Regions from separate parts of the Homo sapiens genome. Here region 2 is linked to region 1. A link means that fine-mapping ties the variant in region 1 to the expression of a gene that starts in the linked region. Tissue or cell type: whole blood. Region 1 holds a variant in brackets; the other region holds the start of a gene. All regions are shown on one strand. Distances are between the middles of the regions.

The links. PIP is the estimated chance that this variant, and not a neighbour inherited with it, causes the effect.
Region 2: TAF13 starts here. The variant in region 1 is fine-mapped to the expression of TAF13 in whole blood (INTERVAL, PIP above 0.99).

The regions. Positions count from the first base shown.
Region 1 is chr1:109,041,612-109,049,960 of GRCh38, reverse strand. It overlaps WDR47 (WD repeat domain 47), which reads left to right and starts at 7,859. Exons shown (of 15, transcript NM_001142551.2): 1 at 7,859-8,099. It also overlaps the pseudogene RANP5. RefSeq lists silencers at 3,556-3,835, 7,662-8,211. The variant G/A (reference allele first, on the strand shown) is at 4,053.
Region 2 is chr1:109,072,874-109,080,873 of GRCh38, reverse strand. TAF13 (TATA-box binding protein associated factor 13) reads left to right here and starts at 4,871. Exons shown (of 4, transcript NM_005645.4): 1 at 4,871-4,953; 2 at 5,809-5,887. The coding sequence starts at 4,927. It overlaps TMEM167B-DT (TMEM167B divergent transcript), which reads left to right. Exons shown (of 2, transcript XR_947688.3): 2 at 2,228-2,582. RefSeq lists enhancers at 4,614-4,863, 4,964-5,023, 5,628-6,614.

The DNA of each region.
Region 1 (8,349 bases):
AAAATTTCTGGCTGAGCATGGTGGCTTAAGCCTATAATCCCAGCACTTTGAGAGGGAGTGCAGTGACACAATCATGGGTCACTGCAATCCTTGACCTTCCAGACTCAAGCGATCCTCCTGCCTCAGTCTCTCCAGTAGTTGGGATAACGTGTTACCATGGCAGGCTATTTTTTTTATTTTTATTTTTAGTTGAGATGGGGTCCCACTATGTTGCCCAGGCTGGTCTCGAACTCCTGGGCTCAAGGGATCCTCCCACCTTGGCCTCCCAAAGTGCTGGGATTACGGGCATGAGCCACTGTGTCTGGCCCAAAATTTCTTTTTTTTTTGAGATGGAGTCTCGCCCTGTCGCCCAGGCTGGTGTGCAGTGGCGCCATCTCAGCTCACTGCAGGCTCCGCCGCCTCCCAGGTTCACGCCATTCTCCTGCCTCAGCCTCTCGAGTAATTGGGACTACAGGCACCTGCCACCATGCCCAGCTAACTTTTTGTATTTTTAGTAGAGACGGGGTTTCACCACGTTAGCCAGGATGGTCTCAATCTCCTGACCTTGTGATCCACCCGCCTCGGCCTCCCAAAGTGCTGGGATTACAGGCATGAGCCACCGTGCCCGGCCATCTGGCTCAAAATTTCTTAGAACAATTAGCCAGGCAAGGTGGCTCATGCCTGTAATCCCAGCTACTCAAGAAGCTGAGGCTAGAGGATAGTTTGAGCCCAGGAGTTTGAGACTGTGGTGAGCTATAATCATGCCACTATACTCCAGCCTAGGTGACACTTTAGCCTGGGTGAGAAAGTGAGACTCTGTCTCTTAAATAAATAAATAAATACTAAAATAAAATTTTCAGTTAATATAATGTAGAATGAGGCAGGGCACGGCGGCTGATGCCTCTAATCCCAGCACTTTGGAGGGTGAGGCTGGCAGATCACTTGAGGTCAGGAGTTTGAGACCAGCCTGGCCAACACAGTAAGACCCCGTCTCTACTAAAAATACAAAAAATTAGCTGGGTGTGGTGGTGCACGCCTGTAATCCTAGCTACTTGGGAGGCTGAGGCAGGACAATCGCTTGAACCAGGGAGGGAGAGCTCGAAGTGAGGTGAGATTGCACCACTGCACTTCAGCCTAGGTGAGACTCCCTCTCAAAGATAAGAAATCATACTAATGTGGTAGAATAGAAAAAGAAAGTTTTAAGAGTCAGAATGTCTCTGCTACATACTAGCTGTGTGACCTTGGGCAAGTTATTTTCTTTAATCACTCAAATAGGAATAATTAATAGGTGTTTTAAGGGAGATTATGAGGCTTAAATGAGAACATAAGCAAAGCATTTCATTTTGTGTTCAATGAATGCCAAAGCCAATCTAATACTTCACTGGGGTTTTCCTTCCTTCCTTCCTTTCTTTTCTTTCCCTTCCTTCTTTCCTTCCTTCCTTCCTTCTCTCCTTCCTTCCTTCCTTTTCTTTCCCTTCCTTCCCCCCTCCGTCCCTCCCTCCCTTCTTTCCTTTTCTTTCCCTTCCTTCCCTCCTCCCTCCCTCCCTCACTCCCTCCCTCCCTCCCTCCCTTCCTTCCTTCCTTCCTTCTGATGTAACTGTGGCAGTCTTATATTTGCAACTCAAGAAGGAATCAACTGCGTTCCAAAACAGCTAAATATGCAGGTCACCCAAAAAAGGTTTTGTTTGTTTGTTTGTTTGTTTTGAGACAGAGTCTCACTCTGTCTCCCAGTCTGGAGTGCAGTGGTACGATCTCGGCTCACTGCTGCAATCTCTGCCTCCCAGGTTCAAGCAATTCTCCTACCTCAGCCTTCTGAGTAGCTGGTATTACAGGCGCCCACCACCACTCCCAGCTAATTTTTGTATTTTTAGTAGAGATGGGGTCTCATCACGTTGGCCAAGCTGGTCTCGAACTCCTGACCTCAAATGATCCACCCGCCTAAGCCTCCCAAAGTGCTGGGATTACAGGTGTGAGCCATGGCGCCTGGCCATGAAGGTATTATTATTATTATTATTATTATTATTATTGTTATTATTATTGAGACAGAGTCTCTCTGTGTTGCCCAAACTGGAGCGCAGTGGTGCAATCTCGGCTCACTGCAACTTCTGCCTCCCGGGTTCAAGCGATTCTCCTGCCTCAGCATCCTGAGTAGCTGGGATTACAGGCGCCTAACACCACGCCTGGCTAATTTTTGTATTATTAATAGAGATGGGATTTCACCATGTTGGTCAGGCTGGTCTCAAACTCCTGACCTCGTGATCTGCCCACCTCGGCCTCCCAAAGTGTTGGGATTACAGGCATGAGCCACTGCGCCTGGCACAGGTATTTTTTAAACTGCCACATTCACTCCGAAGCCCATTCATCTCCTTCAGCATCCCACAGATGAAGCACATGTTCCGCTTAGCTTGATAACAAGGTGAGGCACACTTTGCACTGCTGACGTCACAGGAAAGCTGTCTATAAAACTATACTTCTGATACTGGGCTCCAGCTTTGTTCTCACAGGTAATCATCCTCATCCAGGAGAGCAGCTGTCTGAGCAAACTCTAACTCATGCTCTTATTGCTCTGTCAAAGCTGGGTCCATGACAACCTCAGGTAGGGGAGTACAGGGTAGCAAACCCCAAGTTAGGGCCTCCAATGAGCTTCCTAGCAAGCCAGAGAAAGGGCTTTTCAAAGTTGTAGTTAGTTTTGGCAGTAATGTCATAGTACTGAAGATTCTTCTTTCGGTGGAAGACAATAGATTTTGCCTTCACTTACCTGTCCTTAATATCCACTTTGTTGCCACACAACATCATGGTGATGATTTCACACATTGGCACCAAATCTCTATGCCAGTTAGGCACATTCTTGTACGTAACTCTTGGTGTTACATCAAACATTATGATGGCACACTGGGCTATGGGTTCGATGTAATAACCATCTCTGTTCACCACATTTCTCCTGGCCGGCTGTATCCCATTTATTGAACTTAATACATCTTCTGTTGGTGTGGAACACTTGGGTGATGAACCTCAACACCCATACCTCTCAAATGTGGCTACATACCTCTCAAATTCACCAGTCAAATGATGTTTCACCAAAGTAGTTTTTCCAGTACCACCGCCACCAACCAATACAAGTTTGAACTAGACCTGGGGCTCTCCCTGGGCAGCCATCATGGTGTTCCTTCCAGAAGTGTCTCCTGCCCGTTGGACTGAGTGGTTCTTCTGTTTTTCAAGCACTCTCCCTAGCAGGTGATCGGTTGTTTGTCAGATTGTCCCTGATTAGTTACTCTTTCTAGAGCTAGTAGAAGATTTAAATATTTAAAGGATGCTGGGCTGGGCACGATGGTTCATGCCTGTAATCCTAGCTCTTCGGGAGGCCAAGGGGAAAGGATCATTTTAGCACCAGCCTGGGCAACAAGGCAAAACCCTGTCTCTACTTAAAAAAAAAAAAAAAAAAAATTAGCCAGGCATGGTGGCTTGCACCTGTAGTCTCAGCTACTGGGCTGGGGAAGCGGAGGTGGAAGGATCGCTTGAGCCCAGGAGTTCTAGGCTGCAGAGAGCCATGACTGCCCTACTACACTCCAGCCTGGGCGACAGAGTGAGACACTGTCACAAAAAACAAACAAACAAACAAACAAAAACCCTCTAGAATTCTATGATTCTGACCCAATAATTAATTATTAACGATTTGTTAATAAATGTAATTAATTCCTAGCTGGGCACGGTGGCTCACATCTGTAATCCCAGCACTTTGGGAGACTGAGGTGGATGGATCACTTGAGGTCAGGAGTTCGAGACCAACCTGGCCAACATGGTTATACCCATTCTCTACTAAAAATACAAAAATTAGTTGGGTGTGGTGGCATGGGCCTGTAATCCCATCTATTCGGGAGGCTGAGAAAGGAGAATTGCTTGAACCCGGGAGGCAGAGGTTGCAGTGAGCTGAGATCGCCCCACTGCACTCCAGCCTGGGCGACAGAGCAATACTGTCTCAAAAAACAAAAAAAAAAAAAAAGAAAGAAAATGTAATTAATTCCTAAAGTTTCAGAATATGGGTCCATGGGGAAAAGGTTCTAACTGATAAAAAT[G/A]TGGGAAATGGGATAAAAAATGAAGTTAAAAAAAAAAGGATACTGGTTCTCAAAACTTCTTGTTTGATCATAAAGATTTAGAAGTGGTTTCTTAGATGAACTATACTAGCAAAATAATTGAGATACTACTTTCAGGAAAAACGTATCTGCCTACTTTTTCAATTTAAACACTCTGTAATGTGTTGTTTGTTTGCTTGTTTTGTTTTCAATATCAAGATCCTGGGTAACATTCAATTATGTTTATATTTATTTGCCTGTCACTTATCATTAAGAGGGTTCATAATGAAGACTTTCTTCCAGGAGTTACTGACTAGGCAATTGAAATTTTGTAGTTCAGCTTTTGTGTGTTGTTTTCTCTGAATGCATAAGTATTTTTCTTAGAAATGTTTCCTCGGCTGGGTGCAGTAGCTCATGCCTGTAATCCCAGCACTTTGGGAGGCCATGGCGGGAGGATCACTTGAGGTCAGGGGTTTGAGACCAGCCTGGCCAACATGGTGAAACTTCGTCTCTACTAAAAATACAAAAATTAGCCGAGTGTGGTGGCACACAAATTAGCTGAGTGTGGTGGCACCTGCCTGTAATCTCAGCTACTCAGGGGGCTGAGGCAGAATTGCTTGAACCCAGGAGGCAGAGGTTGCAGTGAGCTGAGATTGCGCCATGTACTCCAGCCTGGGTGACAGAGTGACTCCGTCTCAAAAAAAAAAGAAAGCCAGGCACAGTGGCTTATGCCTGTAATCCCCAGGACTTTGGGAGGCCAAGGCAGGCAGGCGGATCACGAGGTCGAGACCAGCCTGACCAACATGGTGAAACCCTGTCTCTACTAAAAATACAAAAACTAGCTGGGCATGGTGGTGTATGCTGTAGTCCCAGCTACTCTGGGGGCTGATGCAGGAGAGTCGCTTGAACCCAGGAGGAGGAGGTTCAGAGTGCCAAGATCGCACCACTGCACTCCAGCCTGGGCGACACAGTGAGACCCCATCTCAAAAAAAAAAAAAAAAAAAGGAAAAAAAGAAAAGAAAAGAAAAAAAAGAAATGTGTATCTTCAAGCTCTCGCTTCTTTTATCTTGAACTGGACAAGATTTTGTATTCCCAGAAATATGGTTTAAATTTTGTTTATTTTTAATTTTTATAGTTACATAATAGTTGTAGATATTTCTGGAGTAAATACAATGTGTAATGATCAAATCTGGGTAATTGGGATATCCATCACCTTAGAAATGCATTATTATTATTAAGACACAGGGTCTTACTCAGTCACCCAGGCTGGAGTGCAGTAGTGTGATTATAGCTCATGGTAGCCTCGGACTTTGAGCTCAAACTATCTTCTCACTTCAGCCTCTCAAGTAGCTAGGACTGCAGGTGTGTCTCACCGTGTCTAATTTTTTATTCTTGTTTTTGTAGAGAGGGAGTCTCACTATGTTGCCTAGGCTAGTCTCTAACTCATGGCCTCATGTGAGCCTCTGGCCTAAGCCTCCCAAAGTGCTGGGATTTCAGGCATGAGCCACTGTGCCCACCCATTTATTATTTCTTTTCTTTTTTTTTGAGACGCGGTCTCGCTCTGTCACCAGGCTGGAGTGCAGTGGCCCAATCTCGGCTCACTGCAACCTCCGCCTCCCGGGTTCAAGTGATTCTCCTGCCTCAGACTCCCGAGTAGCTGGGACTACAGGCGCACACCACCACACTCGGCTAATTTTTGTATTTTTAGTAGAGACAGGGTTTCACCATGTTGGCCAGGATGGTCTCGATCTCTTGACCTCTTGACCTCGTGATCTGCCCGCCTCGGCCTCCCAAAGTGCTGAGATTACAGGCATAAGCCACCACGCTTGGCCTGCCATTTACTATTTCTTTGTGTTGGGAACATTCTGAATCTTCTCTTCTAGCTGTTTGGAAATATAGAATAGATTATTGTTAACTATAGTCACCCAATTATGCTATTGAGCACTAGAATTTATTCCTGCTACATAACTGTATTTTTGTACCCATTAACCTCTTTATCCCCCCTTTGCCCTCCACTACACTTTCTAGCCTCTGGTAACCACCATTCTATTCACTACCTCCACGAGATCAATTCTTTTAGTTCCCACATATGTGTGAGAACGTGCAATATTTGTCTTTTTGTGCTTGTCTTGTTTCACTTAACATAATGTCCTCCCGTCCCATCCATGTTGCTGCAAATGACAGGATTTCATTCTTTCTTAATGGGTGAATAAGATTGTATTGTGTGGCCGGGCGCGGTGGCTCACGCCTGTAATCCCAGCACTTTGGGAGGCCGAGGCGGGTGGATCACGAGGTCAGGAGATCAAGACCATCCTGGCTAACACGGTGAAACCCCGTTTCTAATAAAAATACAAAAAAAAAAAAAAAAATTAGCCGGACCTGGTGGCGGGCGCCTGTAGTCCCAGCTACGCGGGAGGCTGAGGCAGGAGAATGGCGTGAACCCGGGAGGCGGAGTTTGCAGTGAGTCGAGATGGCGCCACTGCACTCCAGCCTGGGCGACAGAGCGAGACTCCGTCTCAAAAAAAAAAAAAAAAAAAAAAGATTGCATTGTGTATATGTACCACATTTTCTTTATCCATTTGTCTGTTGATTGACATAGGTTGATTCTATATTTTGGCTATTGTGAATAGTACTGCAATAAGCATGGGAGTGCCAGAAATATTTTTGATGTTTATTCTCTTTACCAGACTGTTACCCCATTTTCCCCTTTTGGGAGGTCCAGCTCACTCTGGACTTTCGCCTCTGTGAGGATGATGTTCTTTTTTCTGTGAGACGGAGTCTCTCGCTCTGTCACCCAGGCCGGAGTGCAGTGGCATGATCTCGGCTCACTGCAACCTCCGTCTCCCAGGTTGAAGCGATTCTCCTGCCTCAGCCTACCAAGTAGCTGTGATTACAGGAGGCTTGCCAGCACACCCGGCTAATTTTTGTATTTTTAGTAGAGACGGGGTTTCACCATGTTGGCCAGGCTGGTCTCAAACTCCTGACCTCAGGTGATCCGCCCGCCTCGGCCTCCTAAAGTGCTGGAATTGCAGGCGTGAGCCACCGCGCCTGGCCGAGAATGATGTTCTTACAGGTTTGTGTAATTGTATTCTTCCTTATGGTTATACTTCCTGGATGCTTAATTAAGCTCGGTTGAACATCACGTATATTTGTGGAATAAGGGGCTTACAACCAACAGGAGTAGACAAAACCTGAACATATTAAATGTTAAGTAACTGAAAAATGCTTTCAAGGCAGATCAGCTTTGCAAAATGAGAAACCAGGAAGGGGACAAACAAACTACTGGAGTTTTCTGGGACGAAGTGGGACCTAGGAAAGCAGCGAAAGAAGGGTAGAAGGCAACATTAATTTCATTAACCTTTATTAATTATCGGGGAGGAGTATGAAGAGTCAATCCTAATGCGCAGTCTTCTCCATTTGCAGGCGACAATCCTGTTCGTGCTATTTTGGGACATGGGGTCACCGGCCAGCTAAGGGTCTACGTCCCTGCCACCAGTCTCACGCTATTGCCGCACCCGTTCTGCTACTCCCCCGGGCCCCTAGCCGGTCCCTCCAAGCCCGACCCCCGCCCGCCCCGCCCAGGCTTTGGTCCGCCCCGCCCAGGCTTTGGTCCGCCCCGCCCCTCCCCGCCCCAGCTTTGGGCCCGCCCCTCCACGCCCCTCCCCGCCCCGCCCCGCCCCGCCGACTCGCCCTTCGGCTCAGGCACCTGCCTGGCCGCCCCGCGCGGCGGGGTCCTGAGGCGCCTCGGGGAAGCGCGGCGATTGGCTGCCGCTCGCGGGTAGAGCTCGGCTCCCCGGCACTTGACAACCGCAGTCTGCAAGAGGCTGAGCTGAGGAGTCGCTGGGCCGGGAGGGGCGGACGTGAGAAGGACGGATTGACGAACTGATGGATTGACGCGCGGGCGGTAGGAGGGAGGACCGACGCCAAACCCAGACCGCCGCCGTCGTGCTCCTGCCGCAGCCCGGAGCCGGCCGCTTCGGGGCCCTGGCCGCCGGCCTCCCAGCCGCGTTCTCCTCCGCCGCTCCTCCGGGCTTGCCCTGGAGCCCTCAGGTGGGTGACTCCGGGAGTCGGAGGCTGGGTCGGTCCGCTGCACACCTCGGGTTGCCATGGTCACCCGTCGCCTCCTGTCACCACCTGACACGGCTCCGACCGGGCGGCCCCGAGGACTGTGTTTGCGGCCCCGGAGAGGGGTCTTTAGTGGGCTTGGGTGCCGACTGGGAGGGGGCTGGGGTCGTGGGTGAGGCCCCAGCATCGCGGGGTGAGGATCTGCGAACTGCTGGGCCCCGGTTCGAGGTCACCG
Region 2 (8,000 bases), 31 kb before region 1:
CCTTCTGTCACTCTGTCTCCTTGATGTACTGTTTCTAAGGCTGTGCCCTTTGCCTCTATTCTCTCAGCCTTTGTTTCCGTGCAATCTCTAGACTATCACTTTGTGATGGTATCTCCCATGTCATTTTCTCTAGTACTAATTTTTCTTTCTTTCTTTCTTTCTTTTTGTGTGTGTGTGTTTTAGTAGAGACAGGGTTTCACCATGTTGCCCAGGCTGGTCTCGAACTCCTGAGCTCAGGGAGTCCACCCACCTTGGCCTCCCAAAGTGCTAGGATTACATGCGTGAGCCACCACACCCGGCTTCTAGTACTAATTTTTCTGTGGATTTCCGGGCCTGTAATTCCTGGCCTGGATTTCCATCAGTTTTAGTACATCTCCAGACTCTCAAACACAGACTAAACTCATTTCCTTCCACTTCCAACTTCTTTCCCCTTTTTCTTTCCTATTTATATTAATAGCATTCCATTCTTCTGTCAATAGCTTTCACATTCATTGTCACAAAGTCCTGTAAATTGTCTCGTAAAGTTTGTGTTAAATCAGTTCCTTCTTCCTCTTTGCCTTAATTCAGATTATAATCATCTCTCATCCTAGTTTCCCCGCAAAAGTGATCTTTTTAAAAACTGTAAAGTCATGTGACACATCTGTTTAAAGACTTCCCAAGAACTCTGTAGTTTGAAGTTCAGTCTCTGAAGAGAACATTTAAGGCCTTTCACACGCAAATTCCAGCCTCGTTTCCTGCATCCCCACCCAAAAAACTTGGCTCTGGCAACCCACAGAGAACATCTTGTAGAAGCACACCATGACTTTTTACTCTGTGTTTTCCTTCTGCTCTGCTTATCACACTGCAATTTTTTTTTTTTTTGAGACGGAGGCTTGCTCTGTTGCCCAGGCTGGAGTACAGCGGCGCGATCTCGGCTCACTGCAAGCTCCGCCTCCCGGGTTCATGCCATTCTCCTGCCTCAGCCTCCCAAGTAGGTGGAACTACAGGCGCCCGACACCACGCCCGGCTAATTTTTTGTATTTTTTTTAGTAGAGACAGGGTTTCACTGTGTTAGCCAGGATGGTCTCAATCTCCTGACCTCGTGATCCGCCCGCCTCGGCCTCCCAAAGTGCAGGGATTATAGGCGTGAGCCACCACGCCTGGACTGACACTGCAATTTTTTTTCCCCCACTTTGTGTTTTGGATCTCAGGTTCACAGGATTGAATTATTCACATGCCGCAGCTCATGGCATAGTATTACAATTGGCCCTTCCAAAGTCCTTCACTTTTTATTTATCAATTTATTCCTTTTATCCTTATTCCCATTTCTCCTACACTGCAACTTTCTAGTGTGTTTAATGTTTACGCTTTTTTATATTTTCCTTTAAAATAAGTAGTATTTTTAATTTCTATAAATGGTATTATATTATAGATTTTATTGTTTCTTTTTTAACTTAGCACTGTTTTCAAGTTCTGTCCATGTTGCTAAATCTATTGCTTCTGATTGCTGCATTGTACTCCGTGCTGTGCATCCAGCATATTTTACCTATCTACTCCACTGATAACAGACACTATGAATGTTTTATGCCTGACCTCCTGGACACTGGATCACTACCTAAAAGCAGTTCTCAAACCTATCAGGCTCAACAATCTCCTTTAAATATTAATAACAAATACAGTGTCTCCATTATTGTGTAGTGAAATTCAAAAATAATATAATTTACTGTGGTAGGTGACCTCTCAGAAAGCCCCCAGTGATCTCCCCAGCAATATTCTTGCCCTTATGTAATCCCCTCTCCTTGAACTTGGGCTGCACTTTTTTTTTTTTTTTCTGAGATGGAGTCTTGCTTTGTCGGCCAGGCTGGAGTGCAGTGGCACCATCTCAGCTCACTGCAACCTCCGCCTCCCGGGTTCAAGCAATTCTCCTGTCTCAGCCTCCTGAGTAGCTAGGATTACAGGTGTGCATCACCACACCCGGCTAATTTTTGTATTTTTAGTAGAGACAGGGTTTCACCATGTTGGCCAGGCTGGTCTCAAACTCCTGACCTCCTGATCCGCCCACCTCGGCCTCCCAAAGTGCTGGGATTACAGGTGTGAGCCACTGCGCCCAGCCCTAGCTGCACTTTTTTACTTACTTCTAGTGAATAGAATAGGGCAGAAATTATAGGATGTCACTTCCAAAATTAGGTAACAAAAAACCTGTGATTTCTGTCTTTTGGGTTCTCCCACTTGTGTCCTCTGGAGGAAGGCAACTGGCACATTGTGAGCTGCCCTATGGAGTGGATTACATGGCAAGGAACTGAGGGAGACCTCTGGGCAACATCCATTAAAGAACTGAGGCCCTTAGTCCAACAACCTGGAGGAAGTGAAACCTCCAGCAACCTGTGAGTGACTCTGGCAAATTCTCCTCCATCAACACTTGAGGTATGACTGCAGCCCCAGCCAACATCCCGACTGCAACAGGAGGGACCTTGAGCCACAGGCACCCAGTTAAATTGCACCCACATTGCTGACCCACAGAAACTGTGTGATATTTGTTTTAAGCCACTAAGTTTTGGGGTAATTTGTTACAGCAATAAATAACTAATATATCTACCTACTCACATAATTTTGAAAATAACATAATATCCTAACAGGATCCAGTGATCCAGTGGCCAGGAGGTCAGGCATAAAGGTAATATAAAAGTAAAGTAAAAATAGTAACATTTGTTTCAATATATAAATACTCAGGTATGATGGCACTAGGGGGGGATAATGAAGATTTCAGATGCTTCTACCTATATGTAGAATTGCTTTGAATGCAGACTGATTTGGGTGAGTATTGTCGACCTAAAAGGAAGAAGCTGAGGCAAAATTAATATAAATAGAGAGTTTATTTGGGCCAAACTTGAGGATTACAACTCAGCAGCATAAAGTTGCCTAGAATATACACTCTAAGATTAGCAGCAGGTACAAGTGGATTTTTAAAGGAAAAGAATGAGGACAGGGAGTGGGCTGATACAAAGTTGTCTTTAAGGAGTTCTCATTGGTTCACAAAAATAACATTGATTAGTAATTGGCTAAACATTATCAAGCTATAGGGTGTGCGATATGGTGTCTGATGGGGCATAATTAGGCTAATTTATAACTAATACTTGTGGCAATAGCAAGCGGTTTTAAGACATAAATACATAGCTCAAAAGGGGGCAAGCAGGATGTGATTGCCTCTCATTTTAATGCCTCTTTGGGCCTAATAATTTAACTCACATTCCTCAAATCAAAGTTATTTTTTCATTATTCACTATTCAAATTATTACAAGTGATGTTGCTTTTGGTGACGTTATTTCTTGAAATGGTACACAGCTCTTAATGAATTCCAGACCAAACAAAATACAATTACTATTCAATTTTGGGGTAATAACATTCCTAGAAACTTCAACGTACATTAAAAGTGTGGGAAAATGCTTTGTGTTTATTTTTTTAATTTTTATTTTTTGAGGTGGAGTCCCGCTCTGTCACCAGGCTGGAGTGCAGTGGCACAATCCCGGCTCACTGCAACCTCTGCCTCCCGGGTTCAAGCGATTCTCCTGCCTCAGCCTCCCGAGTAGCTGGGATTACAGGCGTGCGCCACTACGCCCAGCTAATTTTTGTACTTTTAATAGAGACGGGGTTTCATCATGTTGGCCAGGATGGTCTTGATCTCCTGACTTTGTGATCCGCCCACCTCGGCCTCCCAAAGTGCTGGGATTACAGGCGTGAGCCACTGCGCCCGGCCGCTTTGTGTTTATTAACAAAGATAGGTTCAACTCTCAGATAATTAGTTTTCACTCACCGAATGTTCAGCAGGACATTCAGAAATCGTGTGTATTACGGGATTTTCTTTATGTAGCATCATCTGTTACACTGTAGGGACATTTATATTATATCCCTAGCTCTGGCCTTCCGATGCCTGTGGTTTTGCCAGCCATTGTTCTGACCAAAAGCCTTCCCCGGTGGACACGGTGGCTCACACTTGTAATCCCAGCACTTTGGGAGGCAGAGCGGGGCAGATCGCTTGAGGCCATGAGTTCCAGACCAGCCTGGGCAATGTGGGGAAACCCCATCTCTACTAAAAATACAAAAATTAGCTGGGCATTGGTGGTGTGCGCCTGTAATCCCAGCTACTTGGAGGCTGAGGTGGGAGGATGGCTTGAGCCCAGCAGGTCTAGGCTGCAGTGAACCCTGATTGCGCCACTTCACTCCATCCCGGGGGACAGTGAGGTTGTGTCTCAAAAAAACAAAAATAAGGCCGGGCATGGTGGCGCACGCCTGTAATCCCAGCTACTCGGGAGGCTGAGGAAGGAGAATCACTTGAGCCCGGGAGGCAGAGGTTGCAGTGGGCCGGGATCGCGCCACTGCACACTTCAGCCTGGGCGACAGAGTGAGACTTCGTCTCAAAAAAAAAAAAAAAAAAAATCAAAAAACCTTCACAAAATTTTAAATGCTTAGTCTCGGGACACCATCTCTTGGAAATTTGTGATGAAGCACAGTATCCCCAATAATTAACACAGTGCTTAGAAACAGTGGAACTACAAATCTTTAAAATGATTTAAAAGCATATTTGTCTGATAAAGGACTGCTGGCTTGCCCTCCTATGATCCATAGCTTCGCAGTCCCCAAACAAGAAGCTGTGATTCAATACGCAGTAGCAAATTCAGGGTGACAACGAGATACTCGCGACCTAGCCCGTGATTTCCTTTTCTTTGTTAGTTTTCAATTCCTTCGGGATTACAGGGAGGCGCTCCGGCCTCCTCCCTTAGAGACTGTCGCATTTCCGCCGCTAGGCCGGAAAGCACCACCGTCCTCCCGCAGGCCGCAGAGGGCTAGGCCCAGCTACGGCCCCGCGCGTCACCGGAAGTGAGGCGGCGGAAGTAGTGTAACCAGCTGGGAGCCAGCCGGCAGGACGCTGTGAGTTGGCGTGCTAGTGGGATGGCAGATGAGGAAGAAGACCCCACGGTGAGTGACCGTCTCTGTCCAAAACCTGTCTTTTCTTCACTCCTTCGGGCTCAGTAGCGGAGGCAGAGTTCAGGATCGGGTCTGCTTGCCTTAGTGAATTCAGCGGACAGAGTTCGGGGACTTCACGCCCTAAGGATTGATCATTTTAGAAAGTGGGGAAGGACATGAAGGAAGAGTAGGTTTTGTGACCCCTTTCCCCTTGATTTTGGTCTGTATTTGCCAGACACTGAAACACGTACAGAATCATCAGAGATCAAAACTAACATCTATTAGCGCGCACTATGAGCCAACAGTTCAATTGTTAACAAAACTGTACTTACTGTGAAGTAATGGGAAAAGAATGCATTGAAAGTCAGACAGCCTGGATTTCAAAATTTCCATTCTCTCTGAGCAAGTTATTTAACTTTGAACATCAGTTTTCTTTTTATAAAATAGGGTTACGGGCTTACTTAAGGAACGTTTTTAGCACTGTATAAGCAAATGCATAGGAAATATTAGTTTTGCTTACTACAAAGTCTACAAAGGTAGACTTTGATTCAGTATCAACTGTTTAACAGTAACAGTAGTAATAGGCCACCTTAGTTGTTTAAAAATAAAACTTATGGTCATTGGAACTCTTACAAGTAGAAGCAGTAGGATTATTAGTTAGGAACATTGTAGAAGCCATTTTTGCATGAGTTGGAAGTTGGACTAGATACATAGGCTCCTTCAATGCTAAGGTTTCGTGGTTTTTTTTTTTGCTGCTTCCTTTGGCTTTCTGGCCTATCTGTTGAAAAGGAAAAAAAAATGTCATTATTAAAATATCAAATGCAAGGCAATTATTTGACATTTCTATATATACATTTTAACTTCTAGTTTGAGGAAGAAAATGAAGAAATTGGAGGAGGTGCAGAAGGTGGACAGGGTAAAAGAAAGAGACTTTTTTCTAAAGAATGTAAGTAGTATTTGACAATGATTTTGTTATAGATGATGAAAACTTTTGGACATGTCCTTTCAAAGTAGCTTTATTGCTTTGAATGTTTCCCTGTAGGGATAATATTCTCAGACTAGCCTATCAAATTCTGTTTAACTTTTGAATCAGATAGTACCAATCCTAACCCCAATTGTGTGTGTGTGTATAAATTGCTTTTTTTTTTTTTTTGAGACGGAGTCTCGCTCTGTCGCCCAGGCTGGAGTGCAGTGGCGCAATCTCTGCTCACTGCAAGCTCCGCCTCCCGGGTTCATGCCATTCTCCTGCCTCAGCCTCCTGAGTAGCTGGGACTACTGGCGCCGGCCACCACGCCCACCTAATTTTTTTTGTGTGTTTTTATTTTGCTTTATTTTATTTTTTTAATTTTTTTAGTATTTATTGATCATTCTTGGGTGTTTCTCAGAGAGGGGTATTTGGCGGGGTCATAGGACAATAGTGGAGAGAAGGTCAGCAGATAAACATGTGAACAAGGGTCTCTGGTTTTCCTAGGCAGAGGACCCTGCGGCCTTCCTCAGTGTTTTGTGTCCCTGGGTACTTGAGATTAGGGAGTGGTGATGACTCTTAACGAGCATGCTGCCTTCAAGCATCTGTTTAACAAAGCACATCTTGCACCGCCCTTAATCCATTTAACCCTGAGGGGACACAGCACATGTTTCAGAGAGCACGGGGTTGGGGGTAAGGTTATAGATTAATAGCATCCCAAGGCAGAAGAATTTTTCTTAGTACAGAACAAAATGGAGTCTCCTATGTCTACTTCTTTCTACACAGACACAGTAACAATCTGATCTCTCTTTCTTTTCCCCACATTTCCCCGTTTTCTATTCGACAAAACCGCCATCGTCATCATGGCCCGTTCTCAATGAACTGTTGGGTACACCTCCCAGACAGGGTGGCGGCAGGGCAGAGGGGCTCCTTACTTCCCAGATGCGGGCGGCCTGGCGGAGGCGCTCCTCAGTTCCCAGACGGGGTCGTGGCCGGGCAGAGGCGCTCCTCACCTCCCAGACGGGGTGGCGGCCGGGCAGCGGTGCTCCTCACCTCCCAGACGGAGTAGCGGCCGAGCAGAGGCGCTCCTCACATCCCAGACGGGGCGGCCGGGCAGAGGTGCTTCCCCACATCCCAGGGGATGGGCAGCCAGGCAGAGACGCTCCTCAATTCCTAGACGGGGTGGCAGCCGGGCAGAGGCTGCAATCTCAGCACTTTGGGAGGCCAAGGCAGGCAGCTGGGAGGTGGAGGTTGTAGCGAGCCGAGATCACGCCACTGCACTCCAGCCTGGGCAGCATTGAGCACTGAGTGAGCGAGACTCCGTCTGGAATCCCGGCACCTCGGGAGGCCGAGGCGGGCAGATCACTCGAGGTCAGGAGCGGAGACCAGCCCGGCCAACACGGCGAAACCCCGTCTCCACCAAAAAATACAAAAACCAGTCAGGCGTGGCGGCGCACGCCTGTAGTCAGGCAGGGAGGCTGCAACGATCCCAGATCGCTGCAGTACAGTCCAGCCTCGGCAACAGAGGGAGACGGTGGAAAGCGGGAGACGCAGACGAGGGGGAGGGGGAGGGAGAGCTTTTTTTGTATTTTTTGTAGAGACGGGGTTTCACTGTGTTAGCCAGGATGATCTCGATCTCCTGACCTTGTGATCCGCCTGCCTCGGCCTCCCAAAGTGCTGGGATTACAGGCGTGAGCCACTGCACCCGGCCTATAAATTGCTTTTTAAGTGAGCAAATGTAATTAGTGTTTTAATTTAGGGCAGAAGAACATACCTCCATTAGTTTTCCTCTTGCCTTTACAGCAGTAGAGAGGCTTCTTTGACTGTAAGCCACAGGTAATAATGGATCCTGCAACAGGTGTTGAGGGAGAGTAGCAAGTGAGTTGGGGCTTGGGCTTTGGACTAAGGCCCTGAACAAAGTAAGAAGGTGGTGAACAGCTGGGTGCAGTGGCTCACGTCTGTAATCCCAGCACTTTGGGAGACTGAGGCGGGTGGATCACTGGAGGTCAGGAGTTCGAGACCAGCCTGGCCAACATGATGAAACCCCGTCTCTACTAAAAATACAAAAATTAACCAGACGTGCTCGCTTGAACCC